2 separate regions of the Homo sapiens genome follow, and region 1 is linked to region 2. The links come from fine-mapping of genetic effects on gene expression. A gene starts in region 2. The other region holds a variant in brackets. All regions are shown on one strand. Distances are between the middles of the regions.

What was found. PIP is the estimated chance that this variant, and not a neighbour inherited with it, causes the effect.
Region 1: its variant is the best candidate, but not a certain one, in a credible set for the expression of LINC02211 in testis (GTEx, PIP 0.69).

What each region holds. Positions count from the first base shown.
Region 1 is chr5:25,149,131-25,165,060 of GRCh38, forward strand. It overlaps LINC02228 (long intergenic non-protein coding RNA 2228), which reads right to left. Exons shown (of 5, transcript NR_147006.1): 3 at 13,100-13,139. Among named protein-coding and RNA genes, the nearest start is that of LINC02228, 34 kb to the right of the region's middle. The variant G/A (reference allele first, on the strand shown) is at 8,137.
Region 2 is chr5:25,181,659-25,197,588 of GRCh38, forward strand. LINC02211 (long intergenic non-protein coding RNA 2211) reads left to right here and starts at 9,295. Exons shown (of 4, transcript NR_136209.1): 1 at 9,295-9,375. LINC02228 (long intergenic non-protein coding RNA 2228) reads right to left here and starts at 8,998. Exons shown (of 5, transcript NR_147006.1): 1 at 8,789-8,998. RefSeq lists an enhancer at 9,002-9,501.

The DNA of each region.
Region 1 (15,930 bases), 33 kb before region 2:
ATAATCCAGCAATTCCACTAGTGAGTATATAGTCAAAAGAAAAGAAATCAGTATATTAAAGAGATAGCTGCACTCCCATGTTTATTGCAGCACTATTCACAATAGCCAAGATAGGGAATCAACCAAAGTGTCCATCAATGGATGAATGGATAAAGAAAATGTAGTACATAAAGACAATGGAATATTATTTAGCCATGAAAAAATAAAATTCTATGATTTGCAACAAAATGGATGAAATTGAAGGCCACTATGCTATGTTAAGAGAAGTAAGCTAAGCATAGAAAGACAAATATTGTGTACTATCACTCATATGTCAGATCTAAAAAAGTGGACCTCATGAAGCTAGAGAGTAGAATGATGGTTACGAGTCTAAGAAGGCTAAGGAGAAAGGGAAATTGAGGGAAAAAAGAATATAAATGTATTTGTTACCACTGAAGTATACACATGAAGTGGTAAAGATGGAAAATTTTATATTATATGCATATCTTACTTCAATCAATGAATACAATTAAAAATATATACACTTTAAATAAATAAAAATAACTGTAAAAATGTTTACATAAATAAATAATAAATAGAGCACATGAATATTAGAAATATTGAAATTTGCCCTTGAACCAAAGAGGCTAAATCTGAAAATTAAAAGTAAACAAAGAAATAACTATTTTTGAAACTAAAAAATTCCATCACACACAGACATATGCACAAAATAATTTTAATATTTTTGTTAAAAATAATTAAAAGATAAAATTTAAGATTTAAAAACATTACAATTTAAAATCACTAGCTACATAGCCATGTATTAAGGCTAAATCTTCACTCAGAAAAAAATATATAGCCATAATATCTAAAATTTCTAAATACACCAAAATGGGAAAACATATATGAAATTTTTTCCAAAATAGTTAAAAATTATAAACAATTACATCATAAAGAATAATCTATGGATGAATAAAAATAAAATTAGAAATGAATGAAATGTTAAAAGTCCATTACTAAGTAAATGCTCAATAACTAAACTGCTAAATAAATGCCAAAATCTAACCATCTGAAAACCTAAATTTTTGTCTCCTCCACAAAAAAATGCAGTAATACAAAATGAAGTGAAATAAAAACACAAATAGAATTAATTATAAATGAAATTAAATTAATTATAATTGAAAGCAAAGAAAAATCAGAAACACCTAGAAAAAAGTAAAATAAATGAGCCGCTTACACACTTTAAAAATAGTGTTCATAAAACAAATGAAATTAATGTTTTCAAATAAAAATATATAGTATCAAAATATACTGAAAGGCAATAAGAAAGCTATGTATATTGATTAAAGACACTGAAAATATCCTGAGGAGTTTTATTATATTCACTTTTACCACCTACCATTTCAGGCAATAAGATATTTTTGCATTACCTTTTCCAAAGCCATGGTTCTGTTACTAAAAGTGTGACAAAAACAAACAAACAACAACAAATAAAACAAAAACCAAGAAAGTGCTGATAAGTGTTACAAAATTATATTAATGAAGAAATCATTTTAAAATATTTTCACAATGACACTCTTATAGACTCAACACTAGTACATAATTCTCAGGTTGTCTTCACTTTGATTATGACATATTGTCATTAGTAATTGTGGTGATATAATGCACCATAGCATTCATTTAAAAGAAAAATGTATAGTTGTCTTATTAGTTGTACATATATTTTTGATAAAGTATGTTGATCAAATTCAAACTAAGACTAAAATACTCAAACAAAAATTACATACTTTTAGTAAACGAGAGATGGACTTATAATTAATTGCTCTCTGGATTGCAACTGCCATGCAAAAATGTTACTTTTTGTATCTCCTCACATCTCTAAGACTGCCCTGGGATCAGCCCCAGCTACATTGCACAACTTCCTGTGAGCTCAATCATTTTGACACTACTTTACTTCTACTTCTTACCATCAATTTCTTGCTTTTTTTTTTTTTTTAATCTCACAGTCTTTTCCAAAGTCTAGGGAGCCTACTTGATCAACACTGAAGCATAAGAAAGTTAAGTTTTCCAGGGAAATCCTCAACTAACAGAGGATAGGAGCCAGTGGATGTAGGTCCAGGACTTGTCCTAAGGATGGGCAATTTTTAAGGTCATTCTTTATGCTTCCATAGTTTTACAAGAATTGAGCTATTCTTTCCAAAGCCAAAAAAAAAAAAAATCCCCAAGATACAACCTAATATTAGCTTTGTATTATGCCTTTTCTCAGTCTTTCTATTTCCTCATTCCTATATGGATCACCTTCCAAATTCAAACAAATAGGTGATGTGGGACTGAGATATGCACCCAAGTCATTGTCTCATAAATTACTGTCGGGAACCCAAGCTAAAATAAGTGGCAATAAACTAGTTTTAGGAAAGAGACCATCATTATGGAATTCTGGAACTGGACCTTACTGGCTAGATGACAACAGGTTCCTATTATTGTTAATAAGTGAGTAGTGACGCCTCTTCTGTTATGCTATTATTTCAACATTACAAAGACTTTAAATTTTAGTCCATCGAATCACATATGGAAGAAAAGTTTTGGGTTGTCCAGAAACTCTAACAGTTTAACAATTTTAGAGCAATGGGAATTATAAATATTGTAGAATTAGATAATTTTTGTCAACTTACCTTAAAAGCCTTGAAAAAAGCAAGTGGCAGATTCATGTCAGCCAACTATTATCTCAAAGTTGCCAGTGAAATCCAGAATCCCTCCATGACAGTTTACAGAGTCCCTCGTCTTTTACAATCACAAGGCAGATTATTAAAAACCAGACACACAACTTAATTTTAAGGCCTGCAGAGTTGCCAAAGGAAGTGTATGCCAAGCTCAACGTGACTCCTATGTTAAAATCAGGGGCCTCCTAGGCAGGAGTAGTTCCCTTAGACATCTAATGGGGATGTTCTGAAGGGGTCACAAAAACCCCCTAATTCTAAAGTTCTCCTAAAACATCCAGATCAACAAAAGCAAACAAACAAAATCCTCTTCTTATAGGAGAACAGTAGCCACTCATTGTCTGGAGACATTAGAAATGCTAATCTGGGCAGAAGTTCCTGAAGATGATGCTTGTCCTCCTCTTACCCTGTTCCTATCTCTCTTAAGACTTCCAGACCAATCACTAGAGTCAGATTACTCCCTGAAGATTTGTAAGTCCTGGCAAACACATATTAGCAGAAGAGGGAAAGTGTGTGGGAGCGAATTTTGAGAATTTTTGACCAGAAGTGGGAGTTGTGGCTGAGATAATCATTTTCCTGTGAATCCAAACTTAAGGTTCAGACAAGAACACCAGGAGAGGAATTTTTTAAATGTTGCTGCTGAGATGGCTTTTAGTAGATGAGTTGGAGATGCTGTCCTCATTTCACAAAGGCTATTAGCATGCACTATCGATTAGGACATCCAACGTCTCAGTGACTGTTGTCATGATTTGGCCAGAGTTGTTAGTAGGAAAAGGTGCCATGAAACTAGTCTGCCAAATGCTAATGAGACAATATTATTCTCAAATATCTCAGATTAGGTGGTGACATCTATTCATTAGAAATAATGTGGGTATGGTAACTGAATTTAGCAGCAATGCCAGAGGGACAAGCAGGATGTCTTTTATGTGAGAGTCTCTTATGATATATAACAGACTGTGATTTTCCTAGGGGTGAAATGGATAGGCAATCAGGGTGTTTCTGGTTTTGCAATTAGAATAAATCCTGAACTAGCAAGCAGAAGACTGGCATTAGCTACTGTGATGAAAACCCACAATTTCTCACCCACCTACCCAGTCTGAGCTGGTTCTCAGAACCAGAGCCCATCTGTTGAAGTGGAGTCATAACAAACTTGAGGAAGGACTCTACAATGACAGTATAAGTATCAATAACAAATATTAAGAACCTACAGCCATGTACCATAGTGAATGTATACAAAGAAAAGAACACTATCCAGAACTTTTAAGAGCTGTTGGACTTGAAGTCTGAGGTTATATTGATACAAGCATACCAAAATTCCCTCTTCAATTAGATTGAGTGCTCATGAAGAACAAGTACTTAACAGACACATGATTGAAATCAGATTCCAGTCCACAGTTATCTCCCCAGATGCTGAGTGCACAGTTGAGATGGATAGACTTAGTTACTCAAAGAACCTGCACATTGGTTACCTGATTTCTGTAGTAATATGTAATCATAGGATTCATTATGTATTGCACGTTAAGTATGATCAAATATAAATCCTTGAAGCTTCCCCAACACTTTCCTAGCCAGGGCAATAAATCAGAAACAATATTTAATATCAGAATTAAATTACAGAGATTCATACTACCTTCAAACAATTAAAGAATTGGTGGTGGTAGTTATTCTCTTTATTCCCCTGTTTAATTTAACTGTAAGGGTCGCTGCAAAAAAATAAAGAGCTGGTAGATGACAGTGGACTGCTGTAAACTTAACCAAGGGTGAATCTAATTTACTCTTATACTAGATTTGGGATTTTTATTGGAACAGATCAATTTTAGTACTTTATATGTGGCAATAGTCTGGAAAATATGTTCTTTTGTCCTTCTTGATCTTAGTAGATTTTTAAAAACATTTTATGTGTATGTGGAAAGACAGTATTAGCAGGAGCACAGGAAAAGTGTGCAAACACACATCTTCTCCTAGGTCTTAGGTATATGTCAATTCCTCTGCACTCCAACAGAGTATAGTCCACAAAGGACTTGATCAACTTTCCATTCTGGGAAATGCTATGATAATCCAATAAATTGATGGCATTGTGCTAACTGAACCTAGTGAATAGAAAGTGGCAAGTGCCCTGAATGTCTTAGCAAGCTACAACAATAACATAGATGAGAGCAAAACTTCAGGGTCCAACAGTCTCTGGCATTCTGGGGCATCCATTCTAAGGTAAAGTTTATATTATACACTTTGCATAACCTACTACTAGGAAATAGATACAAGATTTTGTAAATATATTTAGCTGTTGGAAACAGCATCTGTAGCTTTTGGGAATGTTGCTTAAACTTTTATATTAGGGCCAGGCGTGGTGGCTCACGCCTGTAATCCCAGCACTTTGGGAGGCCAAGGCGGGAGAATCACGAGGTCAGGAGATCGAGACCATCCTGGCTAACATGGTGAAATCCCGTCTCTACTAAAAAATACAAAAAATTAGACGGGTGTGGTGGCAGCTGCCTGTAGTCCCAGCTACTTGAGAGGTTGAGGCAGGAGACTGGCGTGAACCCGGGAGGCGGAGCTTGCAGTGAGCCGAGATTGTGCCACTGCACTCCAGCCTGGGCGACAGAGCAAGACTCTGTCAAAAAAAACAAAACAAAAAAACAAAAAAAGCAAAACAAAACAAAATAATAACTTCTATATTAGATTACTTGGAAGAAAATATTTTTTAAGTGGGTCATTTGGAAGAAGAGGGCTTTGCAGCAGGTTTAGGTTACAGTGAAAATGGCCCTTCCCCTTAGGATATAGTATGGTGCTAGAGGTACACATGGTGGCCAAGACCCTGTGAGAAACCCCCTGTAGAAGAGTTGCAGCAGAAACCACTGGGGTTCATTATCAAGGCCATGTTCTCTGCAGCAGATAATGCCTTGCTATTTGAAATGCTGCTTCTGATGTGCTACAAGACCTTAGAAGAGACTGAGTGCTGGATCTTAGAATATCAAGAGATTATGAGACAAAGGCTTCCATCATGCACCAAGAATCAGTCTATCCCATAATAAAATAATGCATTTTGGATCTTCTCAAAGTATATCCAGAGGCACTCATGATCTAGACCCTCATGTCACCAGCCATTGTTTCTTTGTAATCCCTTCCTCTGATCACACCATGACCTCATGGAGAATTCATTTTGATCAACTAATGAAGAAGGAAAAGTTTTGTACCTGGTTTGTGGATGGATTAATTGAATATAATAGTGCTAGATGATAAATGGACCATTAGCACACACAATCATAATGAGAATTAGCCTTAAAGGACTTTGGTGAAAGGGTAATCCTCCTCGTGGGCCAAGCTATGAGCATCACATTTGGATTTCCATTTATGTGGTAGAAAATCTATTGGAATTACAATGTGTTTAAATGCTTGGATATAGGTGAATGGCTGACCTGATTGCACATAGACCTGGATGGAGTAAGACAGAAAGATCAGATGTACAAAGAAGGGACATGTGGATGGACCTAGAAAAATAGAAATAAATTATGCACATCTTTGGTTTTCTTTTGCTTCAATGCTTGCCTGAGATCATGCATAACATTGTCCACTGGACAACTGAAGCTATGTGCCCAACCTGTAAGCAGTAGAGACTGGGATTAAGCCTTTGATAACGTTCCATTCATTACATTAGAGCAAGCAACCACTTAGAATAAGTCAGTTACTGGACATTTTCAATTCTAGAAGTGGGTCATAATTCATCTTTGCTGAACAAACTCTTATTTTAAAATGTATTTATATTTTTTGTTCACAATGCCTTGGCTAATACTATGATTTGGGGGCCTACAGAAAGCCTAATTACTGAAAGCATAAGTTAATTATGTAATGTCCTGCATAATATCACTTGAGGCCAAGTAATGCATTTTTATGGTAGAAGAGGTAAAACAATAAGCATAGAATGATGGGGGTCTTCAGTTCCAACCATATATTATATTTATCAGCAACACCCAGCCTAATAAGATAATGAAATGGTATACTAAAGTTTCAGCAGGGATGTCAGCTCAGGGAAGGTACACTGCAGTGGGTGCCAGTCTCTAGGATGCAAAATATACTGTATACAAGGGTAGTTAGTTTGAGAAACCAAAAAAGTAAAAGTAGGAATGACCAATTTTTGTATTAGTTTTCTTATGCCAGTAGACCTGAATAAGATGAATGAATTACTACATTGGAAGACAAAATTATGCATCATTATTTTGAAATACTAAGATGAACAATTTTCTCTAATTATAATTCTATAGAATCAAGGCAGGTCATTATCTCTAGATCTCAGGGGATCGACTGATGTGTCCCTGGCAGTGAGATTGAATAAGCAATTATTGCATCAAAAATAGACTAGGACTAAGCAAACATGCTTGGTTTATTTCACAAGAGGGAAAATCTAGAATAGCTGCTACAGTGGCCAAGTTCGTGGAAGAGATGGAAACACAGTAAAGAAAAGGAGATGAACAGGATATCAATTTCTGCCTTTGGGCCACTTATAACAGCAGATACTGTGGTTTATTTCTTTAACATTTTGATATTTTCAGAGCTTAGATCTAGCCACCAGTTTCAAAATATGTGACAGAGAAGAATTTACTGTGTAATAGCATAATCAAATGAATTTACTGTGTAATAGCGTAATCAACCTCCGAGAGCCCTCACACTTGATACTCAATATTACATCACATTGGCCCTTTTCAATTTCAGCCACAATGGAAGTGGATAGCTACTGGGGAACTCAAACTCCTGTTATTATCTAAAGACCAAAACAAATGTTTCCCTGCTTTTTGTACTCAGGACCTTTCCCAAAGCTGAGAATAGTCTGCATAAATACAGTCTATAAATATAGTAAAGTTAATGACCCCAAAGGTAACCCTCAAATAATGAAAGATGGAAGTCAGTGGATAAAAACTCCAGCCTCCGCCTTTGGATTCCTAGCAGAATTATGCTCTCATTGCCTACAACCAGTGACCTGGATTACATAGCCTTATATCAGTTTTTCATTCTTACTTATCTAATGCTCTTCTCTGTCACTCCTCCTTCAGAGTATTTACTAAATTATCTGCAACTAAGTTCTTGTCTCAGGTTCTGCTTTTAAAGAAATATAAACTAAGATATCTGTGTTGTATACTGAAAATCTTTTCTAAACCAAGAAGAGTAACTAACATGTAGCAGCTTTCATGCAAATTTTATTGAACAAATAAGCTATATTATTTAATACCAAAGCTAGAATTGTACATAATGGCCAAACACTAAAAGGGTTTCAATTTATTTCACAAATATCTTAAAGGATTAATTACATTAGTAAAAGACAGAATTTTTTATTTAATTTTGGAAAGTCTGTCAAATATCAAAGATTTAAAACACTTGACGTCACAGGTCATTGTAAAATAAGTTATTCATTTGACCAAATAAATAACTCAAGGATTTTTTCAAAAAG[G/A]CAAAAACTTTCTTTCTTTGAGAGAGTAGACTTAATTTTCTAAATAATGAAACCTAATAAAAACAGCATGAAGCCAATTAAATTTGTTTTTTGAAATTTTATAAACAATCTGTAAGATTTTAATCTCGACCATAGGGTATAACCTCCATAAACCTTTTATAACCTTTATAATCTTTATTAAAAAGTCAGTGTTTTGGTTTTTTTTAGTTATACTTTAAGTTCTGAGGTACATGTGGAGAACAAGCAGGTTTGTTACATAGGTATACATGTGCCATGGTGGTTTCCTGTACCCATCAACCCGTCATCTACATCAGGTATTTCTCCTAATGCTATCCCTCCCCCAGAACCACACCCCCCCAACGGGCCCTGGTGTGTGATGTTCCCCTCCCTGTGTCCATGTCTTCTCATTGTTCAGCTCACACTTACGAGTGAGAATATGTGATGTTTGGTTTTCTGTTATTGTGTTAATTTGCTGAGAATGATGGTTTCCTTGCAAAGCACATTGACTCATCCTTTCTATGGCTGCATAGTATTCCATGGTGTATATGTGCCACATTTTCTTTATCCAGTCTATCATTGATGGGCATTTGGATTGGTTCCAAGTCTTTGCTATTGTGAACAGTGCCACAATAAATATACGTGTGCATGTGCCATTATAGTAGAATAAACGGTGTTGGGAAAATTGGCTAGCCATATGCAGAAAACTGAAACTGGATCCCTTCCTTACACCTTATACAAAAAGTAACTCAAGATGGATTAAAGACTTAAATGTAATACCTAAAACCATAAAAACCCTAGAAGAAAACCTAGGCAATACCATTCGGGACATAAACATGGGCAAAGACTTCATGACTAAAACACCAGAAGCAATGGCAACAAAAGCAAAAATTGACAAATGGGATCTAATTAAACTAAAGAGCTTCTGCACAGCAAAAGACACTATCATCAGCATGAACAGGCAACCTACAGAATGGAAGAAAATTTTTGCAATCTATCCATCTGACAAAGGGCTAATAGTTACAGTTTGAAGAAAACCTTGTTAATTTGAGATAAGAGTCCATATGCTCGTCTTGCATCAGTGTCCTTTGACATTAATGACTACTTTATACAGAAACTGAACTTATTTTAATCTCAAGATCAGCCCTTAAAATCTCACATGCCCACTTTTTCTGTGAGAGTCCCTGGATCTTGAGTTGTTGAATTGCTTTATTTTTGGCCCTGCGTCTCAAGAATGCAGTTTATTTTGATAGGCATCTTCTACTGGGTCTGAAGATGAGGCTTTAACTGCTCTCAGTATTTACAGTTTAGCAGGACTTGGAGTCCTTTTTAGACCCAGGAGTCAAAGCCCTGTAACTCAATGTCACAAAAACTTTAAAAGCACATGTAGAAAGACACACAGATTTAATAACCTTAATTAAAGATAAAAATTTTATCAAAGTTTTTTTTCCTAAGCAAACCAAAACTTTATAATGGCATAGGAATTGCTTTTGATAAAATGAAATATCTTTTAGGCCAGTTACTGAAAGGCAGAAATAAAAACCATGTGCACTGAACAGAATATTATGTTGAAGAAAACATTTCCTTTGGGCATTTAAGAAAGCATTGTTAGCATCAGACCACAACAAACAGAAATTGAGGAAAAAAGACTTATACGAGCTGAAAATGAGTTGAAGGAGAACATTATCATTTTGCGCCTTTTAAAAGGGGAGAAAAACCTGAAAGTGGCAAGATGCAATAAAAGTTAAACTTGGGTAAAAAAAATTAAAATCTCCTATGATTTATTAAGAGTAAATCAATTCCTTAAGAAAATTTCACTGTTGGTTTCTTTTTTTTTTAATAAATCCTCTTATTGTGACTTATGACTTATAAAGACCCTTCATGACATGCTTGAAATTTTTATTTGTCCTGAACATAACCTCTTGTTTAAACAACCATTTTATTCTAGGAATAAATCTACCATATAATATTGTTTCTCATATAAAATTATTTCTCTTTAACCTTTCTTACCAAAAAAATCACTATTTTTATAATTTTCTTTACATCTCTCTTATTTTCTGGTTTCTTTTACCTAGTTTTTACCTAGCTTTAAATAAGCTTTGAAATAGAAAAAAATGGTTCATCTTTTAAAAAAAGACATGTTTTTTAGAAATAATGTTTTCTAAATATATATTTATAGATATATTTTTATAATATATAAAATAATTTGGATATTTATAATATATAATATATTTTTATAGTATATAGGGTATTATTTTATTGGAAAATATCCATATAATGAAATACCTATTATTAAATTTAATACAACTTTAGATTCTAAATTATGACATTTTCTACATGTATTTATCCTGTTACGTTTACCTAATTATTTTATTTTAATCATTTACCTACATAATTTGTGAAAACTGTGATACTCATTATTTAAAGTTATAGAACTGCCATTGTGAAATTTTAACTGAGACAGTGAAAAAGATATGACCTAACTGACTCCATCTTGCTTCTAACCTCAAGGCTGTTCTTGTTCATTCCTGGGCCTAGGCTGATCTAACTTTGGGAGGAAATTAATTTATACTTTAGCTTTGAAACAAAGACACTAACAGTTCCTTCTCAAAACAAACCTTACAGCCTGTGGACTAGATTGCCTAAAGCCACAAGATTAGAAGTTATGGTAATCTTACTAAATTCAAGATGTAGCTATTGTTATAAAACCAATGTTATTGTTAATAAATCAATGTCTTATTTATTAAAGATTACACAAGCAAAGATCATTCTGCTTTGGGCTGGGATTATACTTTTGCAAACCCTATGCCAAATTTTGACACATTATATTATTTGGCAAGAATAAGTATTAAATTGCTTGATTAAATGTAAACAACAATGTCTGCTGGCAATTTTTAAGAGATTTCTAACATTACTTAACCAATAATTTTAAATCTAGATTATTTATTAAAGATTTTGCTTAAGTTATGTTAACTTGAAAAAGCAGTTGAGTAGTCTTTTCCCTTTTCCTGATAAAGTATTTGATTCAAGTGCTTTTATTTTCTTAAGCCAATTAATTAGAGTTCCTTTTTTCCAGTAGTGAAATGTTGTGTAAACAACACATAAATACATAAATGTATTAGGCATGCTGATAGAAATACATCTTATAGATTCATGATAAACTTTTTTTTGTTAAACTTTCAGTCTTGATAACCTGTTTTACTACCATAGGTAGTTGTTAGCTAAATAGCCTTAAATTTGCATATTAAAGAAAATAACTCAGGTGAAAATCCAAGAGCAAAATTTACATCATAAGATACAGTGAGAAAAATTCTGATATGCTAGAGGGAAATTAAAATGGGTTTAATTGCCAATTGAACATAAAATTACAGAAATTATGAACACATACACACACACACACACACACACACACACACACACACACAGATCCTAAATCTTTTACTCCATAACTTTAGCCATGAGATAAATACAAATTCACTGGCTTGCAAGAATAACCTTTTGAATCCAAATAGTGGTTTTTATCTTAATAGAAAACAGCAGATTTAAAGCAGGCAGAAAAGAAAAATAGAGAAAAAGAGAACTTAGGAAGTCTGTAGTTTGCAGGTCGACCTCAGGGCTCTTTTACTTTAATGTAAGTGTACTCAAAGACCATATTACTTTCATTTTACATAAACCCTGGCAAGTGGAAGTGCCATAAAACCTATGGAGTGCTTGAAAGGGGGTCATTCTCCTTGTTTTCTCCTCATTCTTAGATTGTTTTCCACTCTTTTTCTTAAAAGGAGGAACTGAGCTGTGGCCTAGCGTTTTTGTGTGGTGGATCAATGTGTGCTGCTTGTGGGCAGGACTCCACAGTGTATCAACACTGAGTCATTTCCACACTCTTATGTGTCTCAGTTTCTCTCTCCAGAGGTCTGTGACCTCAGAGAAGACTCAAAATGGCAGGTGATCAGCCCTTATATGCATTTCCTGGACAAGTGGGGGGTTTTGTTATTGTTATTTTGAATTAATTTTTGTTGGGGATTTCCCTGCGGGGCTGCTGCACGCTGTGGGGGTTCAAAACCCCAGAGACTCCCACGAGGCCCCCAGTCACCCAGGGGTGCCTTTTGGTGGGAGGAACAAATGCCCTTTCTCTTTGGAGCTGAGAAAACTCAATCTCTCATTTAGCTTTGAAAACAGCAGTTCAGCTCCTCACACCAATGCACATAGACAAGCCGAATTGAGAGTAATTTGGGAGAAAAAGCGTTAGAGAAGTCTCCTTAGAATGTATCTCCAGACTAGAATTAGAATCCTTAGACAACAACTTCCTGGGAGAGAGAAAAAGACAACAGCCAAGACCACTTTATTTAAACTCCTGCTCAGCCACCCCTACTTTGTAGCTCTCATCTGCCATTACACATGCCAAGGTCAAATCCTCTCACAGTACAAGGTAATCTCTGTGATCCCCAAAGCCAAAGAGGCCAAGTCATGCAATACAGGAAAACAGAGCTTTAGACCTAAGAAGAAGCTGCCCATGACTCTTGAAACTCCACCAAGAAAACAGAATACCCCAAAACAGGTGAATTCTTTAAAGTGGTTCAAGTCATTATATGACTCCTTTAGATTTTTTGGTACTACAGATGGCAAAGGGGGCAGGAGGTACAGGGTGGAAGAAAAGTAAATGAAAGAACTTTTGTTTTTTAAAAAAACAAGACGAAAACTCGTAAACTAAGTGCATGTTTTTCCTCCTTTGCAGTTGCGAGGAATTTTGTCCAAATTAGAGAGGCTTTGTTACCCAGAACTTGGAATTCTCACACAGATTTGACCAAGTCAGGTAAAATTGGTCAAATCTGATGGGTGAAAATCCAGAACAAACAACAACAATAAAAACCCCACAATATGATCACTGGGTGCTCTAATGGTAAGTAGAAATTAAGACCAGCTGGTTATTAAACTTTAGCCAAGACAAAACCCCAATTCAGGTACTTACCTAGGGATGGGTCTCAGGCTGAAGACTGCTTTCTACCATTCTAGAAGCAGGGAAAAAAAAAAAGAGAGATCTCAAACTCATCTTCCCTGCTGAAAGGGAGCTCAAACTCCATAAAGAAGTTACCTGCCTTTCATTGTGATGGATACAGGAAGTCTCTCCTTCCTTGTTGGGAGCAAGTAAAACTCCAAAAAAGAAGGGAGGTGTACAGCAAAATAAACTTTAGATCTTGACCAAATTTTTGGAGATCAGAGATTCTCTGGAGGGGATGCTCACAGACCTCTGCAAATTCTCCCACTGGTTTGAGCCATACCAGTGAGAGGAGGTACCAGCTGGGCTTCCTGGGTCGAGTAGGGGCTCAGAAAGCTGTGAAACTTACTCATTTCCTGCATCAGGACTTACTTCAGTCCTGGATGAATAATATTGAAGATATATGCTTAAAATATTCCTAACACCAGGACTTGTGCATGTGTTTTCTTCCTCAAGAAAGCTATAAACAGCTAAAAGCTTGCTATAAGTTTCCCTGTGTTCTCTCTCCCTTCCCCATCCCCTAAAACTAAAGGAAAAGAAATGTTAACTTCCCCTTTTTCTGTGACCAGCAGACCTTATCTATACTCCCCATTCCAATTCCTTGTAAACATACTTTGTAAAGTCCTGTAAGATCCTGTCTCCTTTGCCATGCTGCTACAACGTCATAAAGTAGATAAAACCTAAGTTGCAATTCTGGTTTTCCTCAAAATCTTAGACATGTCACAAAATAATTTACTGCCTTTGTTTCTCACTCTGGTAACATCTTCCTGCTGCACATATTTCCCTCCTTGAAGAGTTTAAAAGGCAATCACCCAAAACCAACACTGGCTACCCATTCAGGACCCCTTCCACGCTGTGGAAGCTTTGTACTTTCACTCTGCCTAATAAAGCCTACAGCTTTTTTCTATCATTCCGTGTCTCTATCACTCGCCGCAGACAGCTGCCACATCAATTCTTTGGCATGGCTTGGCAAGAACCTTAGGCGTTACACTGGTACCAAGCACTGATAGGAGATTTGTCAAAGGTCTGGGGCATCTCCACTCAGAATTCCTCTGGGGTTACCAAAATGTGAACCCCCAAAATCTGAGACAGGTCTCGGTTAATTTAGAAAGTTTATTTCGCCAATGTCCCAGACATGCGCCCATGACACAACCTCAGAAGGTCCTGATGCCATGTGCCCAAGGTGACCAGAGCACAGCTTGGTTTTACACATTTTAGGGAGACATGAGACATCAATTAATATGTGTAAGATGTACATTGGTTCAGTCTGGAAAGGTGGAACAACTTGAGGCAAAGGCGGGAAAACTGGAAGCTGAGAGGGAGCTTCCATGTCACAGGTAGATAAGAGACAAATGGTTGCGTTCTTTTGAGTTTCTGATTAGCCTCTCTAAATGAGGCAAACAGATATGCATTCATCTCTGTGAGCAGAGGGGTGACTTTGAATAGAATGGGAGGCAGATTTGCCTTAAGCAGTTTCCAGCTTGACTTTTCCCTTTAGCTTAGTGATCTTGGGGCCCCAAGATTTATTTCCTTTTCTCAATATACACTATATATACTTTTATCTATATTGCATTCATCATTGAACAATATATTTTGGAGTTAACTACTTAGTAAATTATGGAGTTTATTCCATTTTCCAGCAGTACAGCATACTTCTTGATTTTTCATTGTTTACTCAGTTTCCTAAGCAACATAATTCATCCAACCAGTCAACCTAAACAGCATTTAGGTTGTTTCTGGTCTTTTGCTATTTTAAATAATGCTGAAATCAATGTTCATAAGTCATTTTCTATTTTTTGTCAATTTAAATTTGAATAGATTCCCAGTATTCTGAAATAAGTTTGCTGGTTCAAAGGATAAAGGAATGTACAATTTTGATGAACATTGCCAAATCTCCCCTAAAGAGTGATATGCCAGTTTGCATTTCCATAGTGATATATAAATGTCCTTGTGATCTACAGCTTCGAACTTTAGATTTGTAAAAGCTTGAGAGATAATGAATGATATTTAAATGAAGTTTTATTTGCTTTTCTCTTATTATTATTGAAGTTGAACATATTATCATATGTGTAACAGCCACTGACATTTCTTTTTCTGGCATTCAATATTCATACTATTTGCTCTTTTATTATGATACATTGTTGATTTTTTCCTGATTAATTTTAGAAGCCCTTTATAAATTTAACAGTCATTTTGTTTCAAAGAAGTTGCAATTTTATTTTTCAGTTTGTCATTTGTCATTCTTATCTATGATGTTTTTGAGATGAAATGTTTATTATAATCAAATTTATATTTTCCATTACTGTGCTGAATTTTGAATACTTATTAAATTTTACTACTTGTGCATTTCTAAGAATTCACTCATTATTTACTAATTTTTATAGAAACTTCATAACCGAAATTTTATACATTTATTTATCTGCTTACAATATATGCTGATGTAGAGATGAGACATGGATCCAGTTTTTCCTTCTAGAACCACCTAGTTATCAAAACATCAATTATCTTTTCCTCACTGATTTGAGATGCCTTGTTAGTGTACACTGAATTTCCAAATATAATTTGGCTAATTCTGGGTTTTCTATCTTATTTCATTGGTATGCCTGTCAGTTCTGATGTTGATACTAAACTACTTTAACTACACAGACTTTATATTATATTTAAAAGCTTGGTATGGTTTGCTTCCCCACATTGCTTTTCTGAATTTCCTAACTACTCTTTTAAACAATCCTTCTGAATAAAATTTATAATTAGCTTCCTCAGCCCTTAAAATCAAAGTGAAAATACTTACTAGAACTGAATAA
Region 2 (15,930 bases):
TGACTGGGGGGTGGGTGCCCCCCTACCCCATGTGGCTCTGAGCTGGGCTGCCACACCACATGGCTCTTCCTCTCCGTGGGTCACACCAGTTGCCTAGTCAGTTCTGATGAGAGAACCTGGATACCTCAGTTGCCAGTGCAGGATTCACATGTATTATGTTTATTTTTGATGGGAGCCTCTGATTCCTGCTGCTTCTACTGGACCATCTTGTCCCCGCCCAACCTCACTGATGTATAATTATTTTTAATTATTTTTCTTTAATTTTAAGTGCTGGAAATCTGAACTATTTGTATTTAGTTTATAATTAAAATAGTTTGTAACAATTAAACTTACATGATGTTTTGGCTTTTCCCATGTTAATCATAGTTTAAATATTGTATGACAACATTTTATTTTTAATACAAGCCTATTTAGTTAAATTAAATTTATTCAGAATATTCTGTTTTGTATTTATCCATTGTATAGTTCTAGAAACTAAGGGAAGGAAAACCTAAAAATTTTGTCTAAAAGCTCACATTTCTTAGCTCCTAATATGCTAAATGAATTTACAGTTGATAATTATAGTTTAAGTGTAAAAAAACTAGTAAAATATTATAAATAACTTACATTTAAAGTTCAAACATTTTCTATTTTCTATTAGAATATTTTAAAATACAAACTTAGATTTTAATGTACCTTATGTCATATTTTTACAACATCTATGTTTAACGTATACTCTAAGGTATACTTAGATTAGGGTTATAATCTACTAATTTTTTCATAGATGTCCTTTTCAAACAATCATGTTCTATTTACCTAATGTGTATTCAGATTATACTATACCTTTTATTCTTTTTTTTTTCTTTTTTTTTGAGACGGAGTCTTGCTCTGTCACCCAGGTTGGAGTGCAGTGGCGCAATCTTGGCTCACTGCAAGCTCTGCCTCCCAGGTTCACACCATTCTCCTGCCTCAGCCTCCCGAGTAGCTGGGACTACAGGTGCCCGCCACCACACCCGGCTAATTTTTTGTATTTTTAGTAGAGATGGAGTTTCACTGCGTTAGCCAGGATGGTCTCGATCTCCTGACCTCGTGACCCACCTGCCTCGGCCTCCCAAAGTGCCTATATCTTTTATTCTGAGTGATTCATATAGCTATTACTATTTATTTGTTTGATTGTTTGTACATTATTTTCACTATCGATGCACTTTCAAACCTCCTTGATGTTGACATTCAGAAGGTTGACTTCTAGGCACTGCTTCCACCGAGGTGCCTTGACCTCTCGTTGTGGCTTTTCTAAGCCAAGGCGAGATAGGAGTAGAGAAAAGTAGGGTACATGCTACCCTGGTTCCTCTCCTTGGTAGGCCATGGTTTGCTAGTGCCTGCTTGGTAAATCTTATGCCATAGTGACTATTTTTTACTGTTTGCTGTAGCTTCTGCCCTAGCATAATGTGGACAACTTCATTCTACATTTACCCTTCAGTCTTAAGGGTAATAAAATTTTCCTTTCTATTAGTCTTAATTCTATTTTTTTAAAACTTCTCATGTCTAGTATAGAATGCTTTCATTATACTGTCTTCAACTATCCCCTTTTTCAATATGCCACCTGTTTCTTGCTGGGATGCTGACATTTTCAAGTTATCTAATTTTGGAAAAAGTTAAGTTCAAGAAGTATAGTAATATTGTAGCATCTAATGCCATCTTAGATCAGCTGGCAATTTAGAAGTAAGTAAATAGTACTTTGAAAATGATTAAAGACATATATATTGAAGTGTTGGAAAAAATGAGCATATTAATGAAAGTCTATACAGGAAATTAAAATGAAAATAAAATACCTTAGAGGATTCCAATAAAATAATGTGTATTTGTCTTTAGAAACACAGGTGAATGATACCAATAGATTTTTTTTTTAAATGATAAAAATCATTTTTTATGATTTTTTAATGATTTTTTATGATATCAAAGTCTAATATCAAAAATGATATTAGATATCATTCTTGGTATCTAATGATACCAATATATTTTTCAAAAAAAATAAAAAAATGATGAGGTTTTTTTTTTTTCTTATATCTGACTCCATTTTCAAATAATGGTAACATGGTACCATTTCTTTTCTTTAAATTTTATTTTGTTGTGTCAAGAACACTTACCATGAGGTCTACCCACTTAACAATTTTTAAAGTCTACAATACTGTACTGTTGACTACAGGTACAGTGTTGTAGGGCAGCTCTCTAGAATTCATTCATCTTATTTAACTGAAAGTTTATGCCTTTGATTAGTAGCTCCCCATTTCTTCATCCACCCAGTCCCTGGCAACCAACATCCCACTCTCTGATTCTATGAATTTGACTACTTTGGATACTTATTTATATAAGTGGAATTGTATAGTATTTGTCCTTCTGTGATTGGCTTATTTCACATTTTTTCATAACATCCTCAAGGTTCATCCATGTTGTTCCATATTACAAAATCTCCTTCTTCTGAAAGGTGAATAATATTCTGTCATATGTGTGTATATACCACATTTCTTACCATTTTATATAAGGTAAGGTATTTAAGTTGTTTCTACATCTTGGGTATTGTGAACAGTCCTGAGGTTTTGTCATATGTAGCTTTTATTTTGATGAGGTACATTCATTATATGATTTATGGTTGAGGGTTTCTTTATCCTAAAAGTGTTTTGAGTTTTGTCAAATGCCTTTTCTGCATCTGTTTAGATGACCATATGGTTCTGTCAATGAGGTAGATTACATTTATAGATTTGCATAGGTTGAACCATTTTTGCATTCCAGCATTAAATGCCACTTAATCATGATATGACCCTTTTAATGTGCTGGTAAATTCAGATTGCTAGTATTTTGTTGAGAATTTTTACACCTATGTTTATCAGGGGAATTGGTCTCCAATTTTATTTTCTTCTAATGTCTTAGGCTTTGGTATCAGGGGAATGCAGAACTTATAAATGAGTATGGAAAAATTTCCTCTTCTTAAATTCTTTTAAAGAGTTTGAGAAGGATTTGCATTCTTTCTTCTTTAAAGGTTTGATAGAATTTAACCATGAAACTATTAGGTCCTAGGCTTTGCTTAGATGTAGGATTTTTGTTACTGATTCACTCTCCCTACTTGTTGTTGGTCTGTTCAGATTTTCTTCATTATTCAGGTTGTATGCTTCTAGGAACTTATTCAATTCTTTTAAGTTATCCAATTTGATGACATGTAATTGTTTATAGTAGTCTCTTATTTTCTGCATTTCTGTGGTGATATGGTTTGGCTGTGTCCCCACCCAAATCTCATCTTTAATTCCTGCGTATTGTGTGAGGGACCCAGTGGGAGGTAATTGAATCATGCAGGCAAGTCTTCCCCATGCTGTTCTCAAGATAGTAAGTCTCTCACAAGATCTGATGGTTTTATAAAGAGAAGTTTCCCTGAACAAGTTATCTCTCTCTTTTTGCCTGCAGCCATCCATGTTAGATCTGACTTGCTCCTCCTTGCCTTCCACCATGATTGTGAGGCCTCACAGCCATGTGGAACTGTAAGTCCATTAAACCTCTTTTTCTTCCCAGTCTTATCAGCAGCATAAAAATGGACTAATACATGTGGATTCAGGCATAGTGTTTCCTCTTTATTTTCTGATTTTATTCATTTGAGACTTCTCTTTTTTTATTAGCCTAGCTAAACTTTTGTCAAATCTTTTTTATATTTTTAAATAACGATTTCTTTATTGATTTGATTTTTTTCTATTGTTTTTCTAGTCTCTATTCCATTTACCATCTAGTCTCCATTTCTTAGGTTTTTCTAGACTCTACATTTTTTATTCCTGCTCTGATCTTTGTTATTTTTTTTCTTCTACTAACATTGGGCTTTGTTTATTCTTCTTTCTCTAGTTTCTTGAGATGTAATGTTAGGTTATATACTTGAGATGTTTCTCTTTTTTAATGTTAGTGTGTATCGCTATAAAGTTCACATAGAAAAATGGAACAAAATGGAGACCCCAGAAATAAACCCACACACATATGGTTAATAATTAATTTTTACAAATGAATCAGGAATACACAATGGGGAAATGATAGACTGTCCAATAAGTAGGTTGGCAAAACTGGATATCCACATTCAAAAAAAATGAAATTGAATGCTTCTCTTACACTATACTTGAAAATTAATTTAAAATGGATTAAAGACTTAAATATAAAACCTGAAAACATAATACTGCTAGATGAAAATGTAGGGGATAATCTCCTTTACATTGGCCTCAGCAATAATATTTTAGATTTGACCTCAAAAACACAGCCAATAAAAGCAAAAATTAAACAAGTGGACTACATCAAACTAAAAAACATTTTGCATATAAGAGACAACAATCGACAAAATGAATAGACAACCTATGAAATGGGAATGGGAAAAATATTTGTAAATCATATGTCCAGCAAGTAATTTAATATCTAAAATTAAACAGGGGCAAAAAGTCTTAATAGACGTTGTCCCAAAGACATACAAATGTCCATCAGGTATATGAAATGATGTTCAACTTCACTAATCACCAGGGAAATGCGAACTAACACCAAAATGAAATACTACCTTGCACCTGCTAGAATGGCTAATCAAAACCTAAAAGATAAATGTTGCTGAGAATGGAAAGAAAAGGGAAGTCTTTTACAGGCAGACTGTAGATTGGTACCGCCATTATGGAAAACAGTATGGATATTCCTCAAAAGGTTAAAAATAGATTTTCTGTTTGATGCCGTAATCTTACTTCTAGCTGTGTATGCAAAGGAAATAAAACCACAATCTTGCAGAGACACGTGAATTCCCCTGGGAGCATTATTCAATTAGCCAAGCTGTAGAAACAATGTAAATATCTATCAACAGATGAGTTGACAAAGAAAACATTGGTATACTTCCACCATGAAACATTATTGAGCCATAAAAAAGAAGAAAACCCCACCATTTGCAAGAACACGGCTGAAATTCGAGGGGATTATGCCAAGTGAAGTGAGCCAGACACAGAAAGATAAATAGCGCATAATCTCACTTATGTGTGGAATCTTAAAAAAGAAATTGGACTCATAATAATGAAGAATAGAATGGCATTTACCATGGAAATGGAGGGCTTGGGGGAAAGCGGAGACATTGGACAAAGGGTACAAATCTTCAGCTACAACCTAAATAACTACTGGAGACCTACTGTCAGCCTGGCGATTACAGTTAATAATAACATATTGCATGTTTGTAATTTGCTAAGAGCAGATCTGAAGTGTTCTCATGGCACATACAAAAAGGTAATTATGTGAGGCGATGGATGTGTTTATTAGATTATGCTAATCACTTCACAACTTATACATATATTAAAATGGCAAGTCATACACCCCAAATGTATTCAATTGTCATCTGATTTCTTAAGAAAATTATAAAATTATATAACTATATAAAAGATGGCAATAGAAAAAATAGTTATGCTTGGTACATTCTTTCCTAAAGGCCTTAGTGTATGACTTTCAAAGATTACGTAAGTTTTGTTTTTGTTTTGTAATAGTTAATAAGAAAAGAGGGGATGTAGAAGATTTCTCAAGTTAATTTCAAGAAAAGTAATTTCTTTATACCTGAAAGTGCAATATATTTGATTATCCAACTTGTAAACACAATTTTAAGATATATTTACTTTCAAAAGTAAAAGTAAAAAATGCCTCTAAAGTCTAATTTTAAATTAAAATTTAGTCAAAATAGTTTTGATTATATTTTTTCCAACTGTGCTAGGTAAAGTATATGAGGATGATGCAAAGGGGAAAAAAACACATAAGCATCCAGAGCAATCTCAAACACAGGGAGCTCAGGAAAACAAACCATGCATTTAAAATATTCAGAATGCTTTGCAGTGTTTATTTATCGTAGGAGCCACAGCTCTTCAAATCTAATGATGAATCAGGTGACCAACCACCAGGAACACTAATCTTTAATCAACCCATATTTGAAGCATGAAATTCCCACCCTAGGAAGATGATTAGTTAATTTAATGGCTGTAGAATTGTCAAATAGGAAATGTGTATAGAAGAGTAATTTAGAATGTTGCTGTCTGTTATTACTCTTACAATTTGAAGAGTAAAATGTCTCTTTATCTGGAACTTACATGATGATTTTTCCAACAAAATAATTTCCAAATAGATCACATAGAAAATGTCTCTTTTAATATACTTTACAGTAGTAAAACTATAACATCTCAATTGTTTTTTTTAAATAAATTTGAATAATGGTTTAGGTCATTTGATAAATATCACCTTGTAACTAATAAGATGAAACAAGGCTAAATAGGACCAATTAAGCACGTGATTTAAATATCGATATGTAGTGAGTAAAAGAGTAATCCAACTACCAGTAGAAGATTACTACATTTAGTACTATAACAAGTATAACACTGTTCCTAAAAAAAAGTGCTTTCTTATGTTTAAGATTTATTTTAATGTCAAACACAAATAATTAGATCTTTAAATGAACAATTTGGGAGTTAAATCCATTGCTTCTGATTTTTATAGATTTTATGGTCTAGGAAATCTATACTGTCTGATTTGATCCCATTTAACTGTAAGATTTTTACACATGTTGCACTCTACTAGCTGGCAGGAAAATTATTTTAATCGACTGAATGAAAGTATTATTTCATGTAAAAGTTTATTATATCAAGGAAATGATTTAGGTCAGAAGCTAGAATCTATATAAAGTCAGCTTTTGAAAATAAAGACAGACAAATCTTTTTTTACATTATTATAAAAGAGCTAAGTTGCAAACAACTATCCTTGAGACCAGACCATTTTTTTTTAAGCTGAAATTTTCTAATAATTGCAATGGCAAAACACCATTTGCAATTTCTTCCCTCCCACCTCCCAGGTGGTTCAACAATTCCACTTCCAAACAGCATTTCCCATCAGTTTTTAAAAGCTACTTACAAAGTGTTATTCTACTACCACTTTTAAATACATCAAGCACTTCCAAATATCTAGAAAGACTAGATATTTCATATAACTTGTCCACCACATACACATCACTGTTAAATAAAATTGCACACACATAACAATGGTTATCATCTGAGGTATCTTCTAAATGTGGCCATTTTGGCCTTGAATCATTCCCTCCTCCCTTCCTTCTCTGCCTTCAATCCAGTGGACAAGTACAGGCACATGTAATGCTTAGAGATGGTCGAACAAATTCCTATGCAAAAGTCTTTACAGAAGACAAGTTTTCCTATGAATTTTAACACAAAGCGTACAAAATATGCTAATTTTACTACTTTGTCATACACTGGCAACCTCTTTAACAACTAGAGACTAGATGTTGAAAAATTAGGACTATTTGTCCATTATATATACTATATACAGAGCAAAACAAAATGCACAAAACGTATAGAAAAATGGTGTCTGAAAATGTCCAAGTATGAACACACTAGTATATTACCTCTTGCAATTTCTTCCCTCCTACCTCCTCTAAACCATTGAACAAGTATACACATTACTATACTGCTCACAAAGGTGGCTTCACAATTCAATTTCCAAAAGCATTTCCTATGAATTTTAGCAAAAAGATATTTACAAAGTGGTATTTTACTACCTATACATTTAACATACATCGGGCACTTCTAAACATCTAGATAGACTAGATGTTTCAAGTAAGGAGTTAATTTGTCTACTATGTATACAGCAGTCTTGAATAAACTGCAAACATGTAACAACAGTTATAATTTGAAAGAGTCTTCCAAATGTGAACATTCTGGCCTAGAACCCTTCCCATCGCCATCAACCCAGAAGACATCAAATTTTCAGAAGACAATCTTTCCTAGGACTTGTAAAACAAAATGTACAAAATATATTAGTTTACTAACTCTACTTTTGTCATACACTGGCAACCTCTTTAACATCCAGAAAGACTAGATGTTGTCAATTAGGACTCGTCTGTCCTTTATGTACATTATATACACAGATAAGTAAAACAAAATGCACAGACATACATCTTGCCTCGCTGTAAACAGGATGGCATAGAGCTCTCTGCACCTCCCCCTCCTCTCTCCTCCCCTGAACCACTGCACAAACACAATGAGTATTACTCAACAGGTGATTTGACCATTCCCCCCAAAAAATATTTCCTATGAATTGTAACAAAAAGGTATTTACAAAATGTGATTTTGCTACCTCTAATTTTAACATATCAGGCACTTCAGAACATCTAAAAAGAAGAGACATTTCAAAAAAGCTTAGCATTGTCAACTATATACACAGTAGTGAGGAATAAAATGCACACAAAACAATGGATAGAATATGAAAATGTCTTCTAAATATGACCAGTCTAGCATAGAACCTTCTTCTCTTCCTTCTCAGGTCTTCCAGCTCCATGTCATCTAACCCACTTAACAAACGTGAACGTATCGCTTCCAGAGGCCGTCTTAACAATTCCATTTCCAAAAGTCATCTCCAGAAGACATGTATTTTCTACGATTTCTTTTAAACAAATGAGAATTTACAAGATGTGTAACTTTCTAACTCTTTTATCATAACTCGACAACCTCTTTCCATCTAGAAGGGCTAGATGTGACAAATGTTTTCTATTAAAAGGTTGGGGTGGAGTTGAGAGCAGCTTTTTCATATTATATACACAGGCCTTCCATAAACGGCCAGTAAATCTTCCCAGAGGGTGGTGGGCATTTCCAACTGGCCAAACGTGGCCTGTCATTCTACCATTTCTCTCTTCCGACAGCAAAGTCTGGTAGAATGAAGACCAACCGCCCGATGGCCGCTAACCGTTCCACCCGTCGTTGTTCGGGACTTCGCTCACCTTTCAGGCCCCTTAAGGCCTTTGTCCGTTGTCGTCAGGACTAGGTAGGTCTCGCCCAATGGCGACAGAGTGGTCACCCGGGAACCGGATCTGCGCGGCTCCGTGGCCGAAAGAGGCGGCCAAGCCTGCTTGCGTCCCTAGGCCGCCTTCCGGGCCGTCCACGCCTTAATGGCCTCCGCCGCGCGGCGTTCGAGCGGCCGCCATACTTCCCGGCCCACCACGCCCGGCGCCGCCCAAAGGCGCTGCGTCCTGGCGGCTCTGCGGGGGTTTCGTCGAGGCCCAGCAGGCTTGGGTCGGGAGACCCGGGTGCCGGCGGGGGCCGGGCTGGGAGACGCCACGGCCGCCATCAGTCACCGAGGTGGGGTGGGAAAGAGAGGTTCGCTGCGGCTTCAAGGTCTGAGCACAGCCAGTGGGCAGCCACAGCAGAGGCCTCCGGTGTCTGCAGGGCAGAGGGCTCGGCCTGTCCCGAGGCCCCCCAGTTCATCCGCCGGCCCGGGGCCAGAGGGCCCTGAAGGCGCGGGCTGCGTTCTGCGTCTCTCCGCGATCTCTGCCGGACCGGAACTAAGACCAGACCATTTTCTTCTGGAGTAAGTGTGACATAAAACTAATGTTACTAATTTTGTGGCTTTATATTTTGGCATTTAATCCTTTGCAAAATTTTAAACCATTGTGGAAACTGTGCAATAAATCTGGTCAACTTAAACTACTGAACTATTTCAATACATTATAATTAATGTCCGTAAAAATCTTCAATCATTTGGAGGTGGTAGTTTTTATTTGATACGGATAAGGGTATACTTTTAAAGAGTCTATTCTTTTTTTGATTAATTATTGCTAACTAATAAAATTGGAAGGTTTTGTTTTGTTTTCATTTGATTCCAGTTTCCTAACGTGATTTATTATGCTATTTATATAAGTGCAAACAATTATATGACAAGATTATATTTAGAATGCATGTATTAAAATATGAAAGTGATATTACTGAGTTTATTTGAAATGTCCCAACATATTGCCACTATTTATACTTCATACATGTTAAAATACCGACATTTTAAACTCATATTTTGAAAAGTTTCTTTCTTTTTTTTTTTTTTTGAGAGACAGCGTATCACTCTATCACCTAAGCTGGAGTGCAGTGCTGATCACAGTTCACTGCAGCCTTGACCTCCCTGGCTCAAGCAATTCTTACACCTCAGCCTCCTGAGTAGCTGGGGCTAGCAGTATGTGCCCATGCCTCGCTAATTTTTTTTTTTTTTTTTGTAGAGACGAGGTCTTGCTATGTTGCCTAGGATATTTAGAGGATATTTTTTGCTTTATAAAAGAAAGAGAAGGAGAAAAATAATTAGGCCCTCAACAACTTCTAAATTAAAATGAACACCTTACACCACTGAGAAACAAATGGGAAATCTTTGGCAGAGGATACATTATAATATTGAATTGAAATTAGAAATGAGTCATGTTTCTGTAACTATATGTTCAAGAGGTAAAAAATTAACATATTTTGTTTTACAAATTACTAATCAAAGTATTCAGCTTTGTAATATTAGAACAAACTATGTTGCTGAAATCCAATGTTCATAACATTAGGAAAACTGAGTTGCTTGTACTGTGTGTATCTGATTTAAAACTAACCTATTTTATTTGATTGTGGTGTGCAGGTATAATGTGACTAGTCTAATCACAATTTGGTTTTGCTTTTTTTTGCAATTGTATATAGATATTTACTTTAATATTTACTCTATCATTGAGTAGATTATTGGAGTATTTCTTCATACATTCCAAGCAATTGAACAATAAACAATTCTCAGAAAAAAAATGACTATTTTCAAGTGAGAGACTGATTTTTTTTCAATCTGTCACATGCAATCTTTGGGCTTCTTGTTTTTCTCCTACCACAATACCCACTTTTTTTATCCCAAACATTATTTGACTGACCAACTTTGTGAAGGGTAATTATTATGAGTGAGGTATTTAGAGTTCACTAGTTTAACTAGGAGGCTGGGGAGACATGGAGATGGGGTGACATGAGTGGTTGGAGCCAGATTGTGAAAACAGTGGCTCTCTCACTGAATTGTACCCCAAAGACAGATGTAGAAATATAACATACAACCCAGACTTTTTCTCACTGTCTATGGAGACACAACCAGTTAACTAGTAAGTTTACAAAGAGCAATGATGGGGTTTCTAACAACATTACCATTGTGAAATAAAGATAAACTAAAGCTGTAATGGGTAAATGAGCAGCAGTCTCATTAGTGGACTTACTAGCTTGACTATTGCGGTTTGCACAGCGAGCTGGTTTTGTCTGCATTTAGAAAAGATGAAGAAGTGGTCTTGTTTCATCTCCCTTCATCACAACCTCCATAAACCAGCTCTTAACAATTTGAACAGATTTTAAAATGTTGAGACATAATGATAACCTGTACATTCTAATTCCATTTGTTGCCAAAAAGAAGCATTTACTTACGCTCAGTTTTCCCCTCTCAGTTGAACTTTAGATAGTGTCCCTTGTTTGTTTGTGCTGATGTGTGTGTATGTGCTTGACACATGGGTTTTGTGAAGAATAATATTAGGTGTTGACTTGATTGGATTGTAGAGATCCAGAAGGCTGGTAATGCATTGTTTCTGGGTGTGTTTATGAGGATGTTGCCAAAGGAGACTGACATTTGAATTGGTGGACTGGGAGAGGAAGACCCAACTTCAATGTGGGTGGACAGCATCCAATCATCTGCCAGCCCTGCTAGAACAAGCAGGTGGAGAGAGGTGGGATCACTTTGCTTCACTAAGTCTTCTGGCTGTCTCTTTCTTCTTTCTGTGCCTGATGTTTGCTTCTGCTTCTCTTGACCTTGGACATCAGACTCCAGGTTCTTCGGCCTTTGGACTCTGGGAAGCACCAGTGGTTTCCCCAGGGCTCCCTGGTCTTCCACCGCAGACTGAAGGCTGAAATGTCAGTTTCCCTAGTTTTTAGGCTTTCAGACTTGGTCTGAGACACTACTACTGGCTTTTCTGTTTCCTCAGCTTGCAGATGGCCTACTGTGAGACTTTGCCTTGTAATCATGTGAGACAATTCTCCCTAATAAACCATCTTTTGTATATACATATTTTCTATTGGTTCTGTCCCTCTGGAGAACCTCAACAAAAACAGGTGTGTGTGTGTGTGTGTGTGTTGTGAATCTTTTTCTAACAATTTGCCATTATCTTTTGGTTTCCCCTTCTCCACTTGAGTTTTGGCCTCCAGGATGAACTACAGGCTAAATGTGTAGATGCCTCCTTTTTCCATTGGGTCACTTACATCTTTCCTATGAGTGGGTTCTACAGGAATCCTAAAGAAGCTTCCATACTTTCTAGTTCCCTGACTGGAGAGATGCCTTCTGGGACAGCTTTTCCAAACTGCCTCTCAGCTGCCCTGGTAGGTTGTCCAGTCCTATTGCTTCGTGTTGCTGAATACCTCTCTCTAGCAATCAACTTTTGTAGCAACGTGGCACAAACTCAAGTATACTCAAGGCTCATGGAGGACTCACAGCTTTGCCCCAAATACTGACAGTACATGTTTCTCCCCTACTTCAACTCTCTGTTGCAATGCTGTAATGCTTGCCAACCCCATTCCCTTTTTAAAAAAATCTTATCAAAAAGAAATAAACTGGTTATGCTGACATTCAGCATTCATCCTAGGTGTGATTACCATGAAAACAGTTCACTTGGTTTTTATGGATGGTCAAAGCCACCACATGGTAGAAAAGACAGGGGAAGGAACACATTCTTTTCTTGGCATACTAACAATTCTCTCCATTTTATTTCTGACATTTTTCTTTCTCTTTAATACACATTGTGTACATTTATTTATATTAATCTCTTTCTATATTTATCTATATATAAACCTATATCTATATATCTATTTTAGATGTTAATATAAATGTAGATAGATATGTTACATATGATACATATATCTATATAGATATGATGTGTCATATATATCTCTATATATTTGCAGTATATAAACATAAATAGACATTGATATAAGTATATAGATATAGATGTATATATTATATATGCTATATTTATATATATGAAAATGAGAGAAATGAGAAATATGCTACAAGTTGAATATCCTGTATATGAAATTCTTACGGTCAGCAGTGTTTTGAATTTCAGATGTTTTTGTTTTGAAATACTTTCATTATACTTACTGATTATCCTTATTCCAAATTTCCAAAATCCAAAATTCTCCAGTGCGCATTTCTTTGATTGTGACATTTGTGTTCAAAAAGGTTTAGATTTGGCCAGGCGCGGTGGCTCACGCCTGTAATCCCAGCACTTTGGGAGGCCGAGGCAGGTGGATCACGATGTCAGGAGATCGAGACCATCCTAGCTAACACGGTGAAACCCCGTCTCTACTAAAAATACAAAAAAATTAGCCAGGCATGGTGGCAGGCCCCTGTAGTCCCAGCTACTTGGGAGGCTGAGGCAGGAGAGTGGCGTGAAGTTGGGAGGCAGAACTTACAGTGAGCTGAGATCATGCCACTGCACTCCAGCCTGGGCAACAGACCAAGACTCCGTCTCAAAAAAAAAAAAAAAAAATTTAGATTTGGAGCACTATGAATGTTTGGATTTGGGATGCTCAACCTGTATTTTGTGATAGTGATTGTTATTGCTCTTAGTAAGTCCTGCAGGGATGAGTCTTATACTTCCTCCTCTTCTATCTTTAGAAGGTGAAGCTACTTAAAATTTATTATTCTTAGTTTTAGTACTTTATTCACTATTCTAGAAAAAGAGGTACAATTCTACTTAGTAGGTAATGTTACTATTTTCCCAGTCAAGGAGTTTCAAATGTTTCTATGTCATTCCCTCATGATGGCATTATCTGAACTATAATTGAATCTTCTTTTTTCCCTTAATATAAGCTTCTATCTATACCCTACTCATCATATTTCTTAAAGTGATTGTCTCTTCCCTGCATTATTGTAGTTTTTATTATTTTTCCCACATCTAGTAGCACTCAGTTTGTGAACATTGGTTCATTATATTTTCAAAAATTACACCTCTGTTTGTATTACAGTCACATGCTGCAAAACAATGTTTCAGTGGATATCAGACTGAATATAAATTGTGGTCCCCTAAGATTAAAGTAGACTTTTATTATATAGGTGTATATATAGGTGTACTATTTTTAATCCTTTATAGCATCTTTTACTGTATTTTTATATGTTTAGATACACAGATATTATTGTGTTACAATTACCTACAGTGTTCAGTACAGTAATATGCTGTACAGGATTATAGCCTAGGAGCAATAGGTTTTACTATCTTGCCTAAGTGTGTAGTAGGTTGTACCATCTAAGTTTGTGTAAGCACGCTCTAAGGAGTTCACACAATGACAAAATTGCCTAACCAGTAATAAAATGATGCATGACTGTATATTTATCTCCATAATAATGAAAGACATTTTACTTGCATTCAAAATGAATTATAAATTGGTACACCCTCCCACGATCCAAAGTCAAACCACTCTTCTTCCTAGAATGCAAACATAAAATTCATTCCTAAACATGCTCCTGCTTTCTAATCTGATACACTTTTGCTATTTATTTGTTATTTTTATTATTTCCTCTGCCCGTGTCCACTTCGTATTTTGTTTTCTATTAATACATTATCCACCATTCCAAATCCATCACAAATTTCACATCCTACAGCTTTGAAATGATCTCACATTTCCCCTTAAATATGGCAGTTAGTGCCTCTAATAGGACATTATGTTACGCCATACAGAATCATTATGTTTGTCCCTCTTTTATTTCTCAACTAGAGTACAGGTTTTTTTTAGAAACATTCAGTGTTATGTCTCTAGGCTTGTCCAGACACTAACCTTTATTTTCATAAACTATCAAAGAATAATTTAAATTAATGAAAACTGGAACTGTATTTTCTTTACGTATGTGAAATGCTAAAGAATATGTATTTCCATTTTGACGAACAGTTGTCTCCCTTCCAATTTGGGATGGTTTCTCTAAAATTATTTTTATCATTTATAAGTATATTATTGCATATTGATATGTCACATCTAAGAGAAGGAAGTTAGAAAGTTGCTGTCAGCAGAAGCTTGTCCAACTTTTAATTATCTTCTCCTAGTTACAGATAGAAATGCTAAACGGTTAACAATTTGTGAAAAAGACTATATCAGCAGCAATGTTAGTTTTTCATATCATGTCCTAAGAAAGGTTTTAATTTTGGAAAACAAAAGAGTAAATTAATTTTCCAAATAAAATTAAAATAATATTCAGAAACCAAAACAAGTGTTAGTTAACACTTTGGGAATAATATTCCCTTCACATGCATTTTATATAATTATACATGAATATGATATAATATGGCAGATATATCTATCAAATAAGTTATTATAGCTTTTTTCTATTGTGCAAATCAGCATGATGAACATAGATATGCTCCAGTGGAAATAAATATACAAACCTTAGTAATGTGAGATGTGTGGAATGTGAGAGAGAGAGAGAGAGAGACTGGAGCATAGACGGTTACAAATTATCTGGAGAAAACATCCTAGGGCCTTTACTGGGGTCTCATTTGTTTGTTTGATTGATTTTTAAGTGATCATTTTTAATCGAAAAAATTATATATATTTATTATGTGAAGCATGATGTTTTGAAACATGTATGCCTTATAAATGATTAAATTCAACTAATTAACATATACACTACATTACATACTTAACAGTTTTTGTGGTGTCAACACTTAAGATCTCTCTTAATGATTTTCAAGATTACAATACACTGTTATTTACTATATTCACCATGTTGTACAATAGATTTCTTGAACTTATTCTTTTGTGTAACTGAAATATTGTATTCTTTGACCAACATCTCCCCAGTTTCCCACCTATAGCCCCAGGTAACCACCATTCTACTCCGCTTCTATGAGTTTGACTTTTCAGATTCCACATATCAGTGAGATCATACAGTATTTCTATTTCTGTTCCTGCCTTATTTCATTTAGTGTAATGTCCCCAGATCCATGTATGTTATTGCAAATGACAGGATTTCCTTCTTTTGCTTTTTTAAGACTGAAGAGCATTTCATTGTGCATGTATATTACATTTTCTTTCTTTGTATGTATGTATGTATGTATGTATG